3 linked regions of the Homo sapiens genome follow. The protein of the gene in region 1 purifies or fractionates together with the protein of each later gene. This does not show direct contact. Each region holds a gene or a part of one and is shown in the gene's direction. Other genes may lie near its edges.

Region 1 (3,420 bases):
CTCCAGAGGCAGTGTACAGGGAAGGACAGAGCATTTCTGCAGGATTCCCACCAAAAATGCATGGCCTGCCTGTAGTCACAAGGACACGTCAGACAAACCCAGCACTGAAAGTGCCAAGGCCACAAAAGACAAAGCCAGACTATGCAGTCGCCCAGATTAAGGAGGGCAAGCAGGCCAGGCTTGATGTGTGGTCTGATCTGATCTGGACGTCTGAGGAGCACATGGAATCTGGATGGTCCCGAGAGGTGATGGTCCTGTGTTGGTGATTACTACCCCCTGCTGCCCATTGTCCCATGGCTGGACAAGATGCTGACATTGGCAGAATCTGGGTGAAGGGTGTTGAGGAATTGTTTGTGGCTTTTTTTTTTTTTTTTTTTTCCCCGAGATGGTGTCTTGCTCTGTTGCCCAGGCTGGTGTGCAGTGGTGCGATCTCGGCTCACTGCAACGCCTCCCAGGTTTAAGTGATTCTCCTGCCTCAGCCTCCAGAGTAGCTGAGATTACAGGCATGTGCCACCACCCTTGGCTAATTTTTGTATTTTTAGTAGAGACAGGGTTTCACCTTGTTGGCCAGGCTGGTCTTGAACTCCTGACCTCAAGTGATCCGCCCACCTCAGCCTCCCAAAGTGCTGGGATTCTGGCATGGGCCACTGCTCCTGGCTGTTTGTGACTATTTCTGCAATTTTTTTGTAAGTTTGAAATTATTTCACAGTGAAATGTTTTGAACTTTTTAGAAAGAGGATGTACCATTCAAAGATGGAAGGGTACGCCAGGAGCTCGGTGGCCCTGGGCTCTGGGGGTGTTAGCGACCCTCCAAGCCTGGCACCAAAAAAAAAAGCCCCTGACCCACTTACCAACCCAAAACCCTTGGCCGCCCTGGGGGACCAGGCCCAAGCCCTGGCGTAGCACTGGAGACCCTTCCCACGCTGTCGCTGAAGCACTCACAGTCCAGCCCCATCTTTGGCCACCCTCTTCTGTTAGACCAGCAAGTCCCAACTGTGCCAGGTAACACCCAGGAAGTGTGTGAACATTGACAGCTCCAGGGCTCACCTCCAGCTCTGCTGAGTCTTGGATTTTTTCAGCCGCTCCTGGTGATTGGAGAACACCTCCAGACTGGCCGTGAGGGCCGCAAGGGCAGGGCCGTGCCTGTGCTGTCTCTGTCTCACGTCTTCCAGCCGTGCAGACCTCAGCACTGTTTGCCCCAGGACTGCAGCTCGCTCGTCTTCTAAGCCAGCACTTCTCAAGTGGGGTCCCCATGTTGTTAGTAATATGGGTTCTCAGCTCTGCCCCAGACCTGCTGGATCAGAAATTAGGGGCAGGGCCCAGCCTTCAGCGGGTAGCAGCCCTCCCTGGGAGGCTGAAAGCATCCATTTGGGAATCCTCCTCCTCCCCGCTCCTCCCTCCTCCCCCCCCGCCTCCTCTCCTCCTCCTCCTCCCCCCCTCCTCCCCCTCTCCTCCTCCTCCCCACGCCCCAGCAGGCTACAGATCCAGAACTCTGCTTTCTAGGAGGACTTCAGGGCTCCCCTCCTTTGTTGGTGGAGCTCATCTCTGTGGCGTCCATGGCCTGGAGCCCCATGGCCTCATCCTGTGACCTCAGGGTCATGCTGTCATTTATTCGTTGTTCCTAAACACCCACTTCTCCCTGGAATGACCACAGGAGGCCTCAGCACAGGGACAGGCCGTGGTCACTGTACACACAGATGGAATGTCAGTGCTGGGGTATCTGGGGAGGAGCTCTGAGAGGAGGAGGCTGAGGGTCCTGAAGCCCCTGCCCCGTGTCCCTGACACAGGCTGGGCTGCGAGAGTGGGAGCGGGGGACTTGGGGCCCTTGTGGAGCTGACAGGTGGCTCCGATATCATCACCCTGAGGCTGGTGGGGTTCTTTCCCCTGTGCTGCGTGGGGGTGCGGGGCCATCTGTGAGGCTCAAGGACTGAGCGGGGACCCAGGGAGGTCTCAGGGACTCGCAGCTGCCATGCCCAGCACCACTGCTGCAGCTCCTGCCACTGGCCACTCCTTGCCCTGCTGGCTGCCCCTGCCCCACCATCCCAAGTGTTTGCCTTTGGTGAGGGCTCTGCACCCGTGGTGGAAGAGTCGGCTGTTCCAGGAGATGAGAAAGACGCTGGATCCTATAGAGCTGTGTGTCCGCGCTCTCGAGGCATGCTCCATGCTAGGAGGATGTATTCTGGTTAAAGATTCGTCTGCGGGAGCAGAGGAAGGGCAGGGACAGGGGTCTGGGAGCTCTACTCCATTTGACATTGCTGCCCGGGTGTGGCCCGCTTCGGGGTCAGGGGGCACCCTTAGAACCTGTGCAGGGCAGGAACTGCCACCATCTGTTGGCCACACATTTCTCAGTGAACAAATGACTTTTGGCATCAGAAAGCCATAACTTCACACCTAAACTTCCACGAGGCTGAGCTCTTCCTGCCCCTCTGTGTGTGTACGTGTGTGTGTGTGTGTATTGAGGGGACGCGGCTGCTGGCCACCTTCTGTCGGCACAGGTTGGCGAGGCTTCATGACTGCCCAGCCCATGCAGTCCAAGAGTCCCACAGCCCAGCCCATGCCCAGGCTCATCCACTGCGGCGGGTGGCCTCTGCCAGGGGAGGCTAGGAAACCCCAGTGGTGAGCCTTGGCCTTGGGATCTGCCAGGACTGTACCCGGGATGGCAGGGAGGGCGAGCTTTGGTCCCTGCAACTTGGAGCCATCTCTCTCTCTCCTGCTGTCTGTGGGTCTGAGAACCCCCAGCTCGTCCTCCCCCCTCCCCAAACCTATGACCTACAACTGGAGCCTCTGCCCACTTCTCCCTCCAGGGTTTCAAAGACAACCTCCACGCTGTGTTCTGCTTGGCTGAGAACTCGGTGGGGCCCAATGCGACAAGGCCAGATGACATCCACCTGCTGTACTCAGGGAAGTACGTCTGGCCCTCCCACTCCTTCCTGCCCACTGTTGGAACTCGCGACCCTTCCCGGCCTGCAATGCCAGCTCACTCCAGGCATATCGGGAGGGCACTCAGCGTTGGGGTCCCCTGGGCAGCAGGCTCCTTGCTTCCCGGAGGGCTGGGGAGCTTTGGTAGCAGGCGCACCTCACGTTGAGGGGCCCATGGCACCTGGATGAGGTGCTAGGCTCCCGTGCAGTGCCTGGCCCAGGAGCTCGTGGTCTACCCTGCATTACCAGGACAGGTCTTTCCAAAATTTAGGCCTGAAATCTTTGGGTGTGTGAAGCTCTGACCCCCAGATTCCCTGCTCGGGGACACCTCCTGCATCTCCCCCTTGAGATTGACCCTGGAAAGTCAAAGCTGAGCTGGCAGCTGAGGAGCAAGTGGCTCCAGAATTCAAAAGAGAAGAGCCCTCTCCCCAGCCCCATGAGCTGGTGCCTGAGTGGGCGCCTCCCCGCATCTCCTGCTCTTCCTCCCCATCTGCCGGGTGC
Region 2 (3,648 bases), on another chromosome or scaffold:
GTGAAATTCAACTCTCCACATCATGGCTGCCTTCATCCTGGCAGTTCAGTGTGGTTGGCCAAGCAGCACCATTTGGCACAGCAAATCACCCCTGCCTTCTTGAAGCATTTTCCTCACTTGGCCTCAAGATCACTTTACGCTCTTGTTTTCCTCCTCCGTCTCAGCTGCTCCCCCTCAGTCTTGCTTACTGGTTCTTCTTCCTCTTTCTGGAATCACACATCACACTTGTTTGACAATTATACAGAAAGTCATACCAGTGACATAGTAGCACAGTCATATGGTCAGACAGTTCTCACAGAGACAGACACAGAGTCACAAATCCACAAGTGACACAGACCGAAGTGCTCCTACTCTAGGGTTTAAAATACCATAGTGGTGTCCCAGAGCGGCTCTGAATTAATTTCCTGGGATAGGGCAGAAGGCGATGTATGGTTTGCCACAGTCACAGCTTCTGGGACATGTTTATTGAGGGAGCAGCAATGAATTTGAATCATTGTTTTATTTTTCTTCATATTCCAGGTTGATGTTGATGCAAATTCACTGAATTCTAACGATGTTTTTGTCCTGAAACTGCCACAAAATAGTGGCTACATCTGGGTAGGAAAAGGTGCTAGCCAGGAGGAGGAGAAAGGAGCAGAGTATGTAGCAAGTGTCCTAAAGTGCAAAACCTTAAGGATCCAAGAAGGCGAGGAGCCAGGTGTGTGCTCTGGGGCCAAGGGCACTAACTAGAATTTATACTGATACGATTGCTAATCATCTTTTTTTCACCAAAAAGTCACTTTCTAATGGCTTATAAGGGTTAACAATCTCTCCATTAGTTGCAGAGGTGGGTGGGTGATGGTACCTGATTTCTTTAAGTAATTTCTCAACACTGAAATCAAGGTGAGATAATATTTGTTCATATAAAGCGACAGCAAGCATATGTCCCTGAAAATGCACTGGATAACTGAGTGTGTTTTCCACAGAGGAGTTCTGGAATTCCCTTGGAGGGAAAAAAGACTACCAGACCTCACCACTACTGGAAACCCAGGCTGAAGACCATCCACCTCGGCTTTACGGCTGCTCTAACAAAACTGGAAGATTTGTTGTAAGTGTCCTTAAAAATAGTGCGATAGGGCTGGTTGCGGTGGCTCATGCCTGTAATCCCAGCACTTTGGGAGGCCGAGGCAGGCAGATCACCTGAGGTCAGGAGTTCGAGACCAGCCTGACCAACATGTAGAAACCGTCTCTACTAAAAATATAAAAATTAGCTGGATGTGGTGGTGCACACTTGTAATTCAAGCTACTCGGGAGGCTTGAGGCAGGAGAATCACTTGAACCCAGGAGGCGGAGGTTGCAGTGAGCCAAGGTCGCGCCACTCCACTCCACTCCAGCCTGGGCAACAAGAGCAAAACTCCGTTAAAAAAAAAAAAAAAAAAGGGCCGGGCGCGGTGGCTCATGCCTGTAATCCCAGCACTTTGGGAAGCTGAGACGGGTGTATCACGAGATCAAGGAGTTCCAGACCAGCCTGGCCAATATGGTGAAACCCCCTCTCTACTAAAAATACAAAAATTAGTCAGGCATGGTGGTGGGTGCCTGTAGTCCCAGCTACTTGGGAGGCTGAGACAGGAGAATCTCTTGAACCCAGGAGGCGGAGGTTGCAGTGAGCCAAGATCGTGCCACTGGCACCACTGTGTTCCAGCCTGGGCAACAGAGTGAGACTCCATCTCAAAAAAAACACAAAAAACAAAAAACAGTGAGATAGAACCTAACAACGCCGGGAAGGGCATTCCCATGTGGCTCTGACACCTTCAGACATGCTACTGTTCTGAATCTCAGTTTCAGCCTGCCTACAAACCACGGTGACAACCTTTGCTCTACACAGGGTATTTTTTTTAAACTTTTATTTTAAGTTCAGGGGTACATGTGCAGGTTCGTTACATAGGTAAACTTGTGTTGTGGGAGTTTGTTGTACAGATTATTTCATCACCCAGGTATTAAGCCTAGTATCCATTAGTTATTTTTCCTGATCGTCTCCCTCATCCCACCTTCCACCTTTCGATAGGCCCCCAGTGTGTGTTGTTCCTCTCTATGTGTCCGTGTGTTCTCATCATTTAGGTCCCACTTATAAGTGAGAACCTGCAGTATTTGGTTTTCTGTTCCTTACACAGGGTATTTTAAGGATTAATGATATAATTAATGTGAAAGCATTAATGTTGTGATGTCCTATATAGATTAAGCTGTTCTTAAAAGTACTAGCTACTTTACACCTGTGTGAGCATGCAGTTGCTGTATGAATATATATGTGGCTAGATGTGTTAATTTAATAATTTGGCATTTTCTGTGGGCAGCAATCATTATTTCTGATCAAACTATGTAAATTTTACATGTCAATTTCCCAGCGGAGTAAAAATTTTCACCATATTGACTGAATTAAAAATATTATGGAAATATTATGATCATTGGGCAAAAATCACAGAAAGCTATATATGCAGTTACAAATTAACTGATATCAACAGGAATGTTTTATTTCATAGTCATTTACAAGCTTTGACTTCCAGTCCAGTCAGAAGTAAAATTAGAAGTATGTGTATGCATGTCTTAGTTCAAGCTCCTATCACAAAAATACCATTGACTGTGTGGTTTAAACCACAAACATTTATTTTTCATGGTTCTGAAGGCTGAGAAGTCCAAGATTAAGGCAACAGCAGATCTGATGTCTGGTGAGGGACCACTGTCTAGCCTTCTTGTGTCCTCACATGGCCAAGAGAGCAAGCTCTAGTCGTGTTCTTTCCTTATAAAGACAGACACTAAGCAGGGGCACTGTACCCTCATGGCCTCATCTGAACCTAATTACCTCCCAAAGGCCCCACCTCCTACTACCATGCCATTGGAGGCTAGGGGTTTAGCATAGGAATTCTGGAGGCAAACAAACATCCAATACAAAAGAATACAGGAGTGATTTTACACTAGGCTCTGAAATATCATCCTGAACCACAGCCTCTCACCTAAATTTCAAAAAAAAAAGTTATACTTTCTCTGTTTGACGTGCTAAGTTTTTGGTAAATTTTTCATTTAAAGAATGAATTCTTCTTTTATATAAAATTTGATCCACAGATTTTGGTCAACATGCCCTAGTGAATAAATGCAAACTTCATTTTTCAACACAGGAAAGAAAATTTCCCACGTATTTTGTCAGATATTTTGATTACTAGAAATAAAATTATTTGAGATGAAGTGGTTCAAGTCTCCCTTGAAGGTTATAAATGATTTGACCTACAAGTTAAAGATTTAAACAGTGCATTGAGATAAATATTTGGTTGCTGTATACCACAATTTGCTCACCTACTTTACAGGAAATCCCTGAACTTGCTATATTTTATAGATTTGTCATCAGAAAAATCTGCTGTTTTATTGTTTTGACTTGATATTGCATCCAAGCAACTTATTTTTCAGCATATGCTCCTATAATTTCTTATTAGAATTATTTATTAACATTGCTATAAATTAGTTGTTTGTTTCCAAGAAAAATGTATTTTACAAAAATAAGTACCTAGGCTTTGTTCTCAGTGTGTTTAAAGAAAAAAGATCTGTTAGTCTTTGGCTTTTTGTTATGCGTATATATTAGCCTTTAAGAGAAATATACATTTCCTCTGCACCAACTCATTT
Region 3 (4,399 bases), on another chromosome or scaffold:
GCACTCTGGGAGGCTGAGGTGGGCGGATCACCTGAGGTCAGGAGTTCAAGACCAGCCTGACCAACATGGTGAAACTCCGTCTCTACTAAAAATACAAAAACCAGCTGGGTGTGGTGGGAGGTGCCTGTAATCCTAGCTACTCAGGAGGGTGAGGCAGGAGAATTGCTTGAACCCGGGAGGTGGAGGTTGCGGTGAGCTGAGATTGCACCATTGCACTCCAGCCTGGGCAACAAGAGTGAAACTCCATCTCAAAAAAAAAAAAAAAAAAAAATGGGCGTCTCACTCTGTCATCCAGGCTAGAGTGCAGTGGCACCACCACAGCTCACAGCTACCTCGACCTCCTGGGCTCAAGCGATCCTCACACCTCAGCCTCCTGAATAGCTGGGACTACAGGTGTGTGCCGCCACACCTGGCTATTTTTGTATTTTTTGTGGAGATGAGGTTTTCACCATGTTGCCCAGGGTGGTCTCAAACTCCTGGGCTCAAGCAATCCTCCTGCCTTGGCTTCCTAAAGTGCTGGGAATATAGGTGTGAGCCACTGCACCTAGCTGGGTGATTATTAATAATCATGATTGTTAATTATGTTCATGATTACAGGCGCGGTGGCTCACGCCTGTACTCCCAGCACTTTGGGAGGCCGAGGTGGGCGAATCACCTGAGGTCAGGAGTTCAAGACCTGCCTGACTAACATGGAGAAACCTCATCTCTACCAAAAATACAAAATTAGCTGGGTGTGGTGGTGCGTGCCTGTAATCCCAGCTACTCGGGGGGCTGAGGCAGGAGAATTGCTTGAACCCGGGAGGCGGAGGTTGCAGTGAGCTGAGATCGTGCCATTGCATTCCAGCCTGGGCAACAAGAGCGAAACTCCGTCTCAAAAAAAAAAAAAAAATTATGTTCATGGGAAAGCACTTTTCCTAACAAGCCCTTTTCTCACTACATGTAGCGTTTGTGCTCCCACTTCAGTTACTTGTCTTTAGGCATGACCTTTAATCTCTCTGAACCAGTTTCCTCATTTTAAGAATTGAAATGCTGGCTGGGCCAGTGGCTCACGCCTGTAATCCCAGCACTTTGGGAGGCCAAGGCGAGATGACTGCTTGAGTCCAGGAGTTCGAGACTAGCCTGGGCAACATAGTGAGGCCACCTCCCCGCTGTCTCTATAAAAAAATCTAGAAATTAGTCCCACGTGGTGATGTGCGCCTGTAGTCCCAGCTGCTTGGGAGGCTGAGGTGGGGGGATCGCTGAAGCCGGGAGGTCAAGGCTGCAGTGACCCGTGGTCATGCCGCTGCACTCTAGTCTGGGGACACAGTGAGACCCCGTATCAAAAAGAAAAATGCTGCCTATTTCAAGGTTGTAGCAAAGCTAAGTTTGAACAGAGCAAAGGAAGCGCCATAGAAGCTGCACTACTTGCTCATGTCACAGCTGGGGAATGGGGTGGTCGAATGGGGAGGTCCACTGTCGCAATGTTCCAATTCCCGCCCAGAGGGAGGGACCTCCCCTTCGAGGGAGGGCGCCGGAAGTGACGCGAGGCTCTGCGGAGACCAGGAGTCAGACTGTAGGACGACCTCGGGTCCCACGTGTCCCCGGTACTCGCCGGCCGGAGCCCCCGGCTTCCCGGGGCCGGGGGACCTTAGCGGCACCCACACACAGCCTACTTTCCAAGCGGAGCCATGTCTGGTAACGGCAATGCGGCTGCAACGGCGGTGAGTGCTGAGCCGGTGACCAGCACACTTTGGGCTTCTGGACGAGCCGTGCAGCGATTGGCCCCAGGTTGCCATCCTCAGTCGTCTATTGGTCAGAACGGCTATCTTTTTTTTTTTTTTTTTTTTTTTTTTTTTGGTCCGAGTAGCTTTTAAAGGGCCAGTAGCTCGGTTGCCCTCCGGAAGGAATGGGGAAATCAGAGAGCGGTGATACTGGGTTAAGAGTGGAAGGATTGTTTGGAACGGAACTCCGGTCCCTGCGGGCATCTGGGTGGGATTCCCATCAGGCCTGGGATGCACGGCTCTAGATTTAGTGACCCAGACCAAGAACGTTCGTCTACACAGACGGGGTCCTTTCATTCGAGGCTGGGCTGAGGCGGATGCAGATACGGCCCCTTTGGGAAGACACGTTCCACTTTTGATTCATAGGAGAGAGTATCAGCCAAGCCTCCGAACTGCACACAAACGTCTTAGAAGTGCGCCTTCTTTTTGTGTTATAGTGGTCTCCCAGCCACAGCCAACGCTCCAAGTCCCCAGCTGTGACACACCTACTGAATTACTACCGTGGGTGGGAGGCCGCCGTGGGCCTTTCCATTACGAGCCTGCTTGCCGAGCCCTGGGCTTGTGCACAGACAAACTGCAGAGCTGGTGGAGGCCACTGCCAGGCCGAGATAAGAAAGAGATGGGGAGCTGCTAATCTCCCCCTGTCCAGCCTGTTGGTGAGGGCTGGGATCTTTGCTCTTGCAGTCATTCCAGAGCCCTGGACTAGGAGTAGGAAGATCTGAATTGTGGCCCCAACTCTCTTTCGGTTATTAGCTCTGTGACCCTAGGCAAGTCACCTCATCCCTTGATGCCACCCGTTGCTTCTGTAACATGGTCCCAAAGGTGCCTGTCTTGTCCACCTGATAGGATTTTTGAGACGACAACAATATGCAAAAGCAATAGCTTCAACATAGAAGTGCTCAGTGTTTTATTTTTTAATGAAACGGTTTGACTTGGATATGCTGTGCACATTCAATGAACTTAAGGAATTGTTTGAACCTAGTAGTTCTGGGACCTTAGAGTCCTTTCTGTGGGCTCCCTGTGGCCCAGAATTTTGGTGGCCACGTTTAATATCAAGCCTAGCCTAATTTGCAAAGGGTCTCCCAGGGTTAATTTATTGGAGTGATCACATGGAGTAGACCAGAGTCTGAGGGCAGAAAGCTGTCACCTGCTTCGGCAATAGAGGCCCCAGATGTCTGGGTGCAAAAGAACTCCATAGCACCCCGACCAACATGGTGAAACCCCGTCTCTACTAAAAATATAAAAATTAGGCCGGGCACAGTGGCTCATGCCTGTAATCCTAGCACTTTGGGAGGCCGAGGCAGGTGGATTGCCTGAGCTCAGGAGTTCGAGACCAGCCTAGGGAACACAGTGAAACCCCGTTTCTACTAAAAATACAAAAAATTAGCCGACGTGGTGGCATGCGCCTGTAGTCCCAGCTACTTGGGAGGCTAAGACAGGAGAATCGCTTGAACCTGGGAGGTGGAGGTTGCACTGAGCCGAGACCGCGCCATTGCACTCCAGCCTGGGTGACAGAGCGCGACTCCCCCTCAAAAAAAGAAAAAAAAAAAAAATATATATATATATATACACACACACACATATTTTAGCTGGGCATGGTGGTGTGCGTCTGTAGTAGTCCCAGCTACTTGGGAGGCTGAGTCAGGAGAATCGCTTGAACCTGGAAGGCAGTGGTTGTAGTTAGCTGAGAACATGCCACTGCACTCCAGCCTGGGCAACAGAGGGAGACTCTGTCTCAAAAAAAAAAAAAAAAGGAACTACATAGGATGAACATCCCAGATCAGGGAATGTTGACTGTCGACAGTATCAGTATCTACAGTGGCTACTGTCTGATGTAGAAAGAAATGGGATCAGGCTAGGCGTGGTGGCTCACGCCTGTAATCCCAGCACTTTGGGAGGCTGGGGCAGGAGGATCACAAGTTCGAGACCAGCCTGGCCAACACAGTGAAACCCCGTCTCTACTAAAAATGTGAAAATTAGCTGGGCATGGTGGAACATGCCTGTAGTTCCAGCTTGAACCCAGGGGTGGAGGTTGTAGTGAGCCTAGATCACGCCACTGCACTCCAGCCTGAGCAAAACAGTGAGACTCTGTCTAAAAAAAAAAAAAAAAAAAGAGAGAAATGGGACCTCCGTCTTAGACTGAAGAATTCAGTTCTACGTGCTTAGCAGTGAATACTTTTGTCCAAGGTACTCTGGCAGGAGGAAGAGGCGTGTCCTCTTGAGTTCTTGACTTGGGCTCTGGCCTGTTAATATTTCCATGTTGGTGAAACCAGAGGCAGCACTCTAGGTGCACGAACTTTAGGCAGCGCAGCCTCCTAGTCTTATGGAACATCTGAGGCAGAAGAAACCTGAGTCCAACCTTTTCATTTTATAGATGAACAAACAGATCCTGGTGGGACAGTGTACCCAAGGTCACCCAGCCAAGAGGCTGAGCAGGACTGTACGTCAGATCCGTTTACCTCAGTCCTTAATGCATGCAGTCCAGCCAGATTAAGGGACCCTTAATACTGTCAGCTTTCCCCACTGTGGGATCTTCATCCTCTTGACTTCTTTTGTAGCCAGACATCTGGGCCTCTTGCTGGAGAAGGTGGCAGCTTGCTGCTCTTAGACTCTAGTCTACTCCATGTGGCATCTGGATG

The links.
Region 2: the proteins of NPEPL1 (region 1) and SCIN fractionate together in Homo sapiens (co-fractionation; one large-scale study listed by BioGRID). This does not show direct contact.
Region 3: the proteins of NPEPL1 (region 1) and HMBS fractionate together in Homo sapiens (co-fractionation; one large-scale study listed by BioGRID). This does not show direct contact.

Annotation. Positions count from the first base shown.
Region 1 is NC_000020.11:58,709,675-58,713,094, forward strand, and holds part of NPEPL1 (probable aminopeptidase NPEPL1), read left to right. Parts: intron 1-2,804; coding exon 2,805-2,905; intron 2,906-3,420. UniProt on the Homo sapiens protein: Probably catalyzes the removal of unsubstituted N-terminal amino acids from various peptides.
Region 2 is NC_000007.14:12,643,619-12,647,266, forward strand, and holds part of SCIN (scinderin), read left to right. Parts: intron 1-519; coding exon 520-697; intron 698-965; coding exon 966-1,087; intron 1,088-3,648. UniProt on the Homo sapiens protein: Ca(2+)-dependent actin filament-severing protein that has a regulatory function in exocytosis by affecting the organization of the microfilament network underneath the plasma membrane.
Region 3 is NC_000011.10:119,083,367-119,087,765, forward strand, and holds the start of HMBS (porphobilinogen deaminase), read left to right. Parts: upstream 1-1,514; 5' UTR 1,515-1,667; coding exon 1,668-1,700; exon of another isoform or gene 1,701-1,791; intron 1,792-2,444; exon of another isoform or gene 2,445-2,527; intron 2,528-4,399.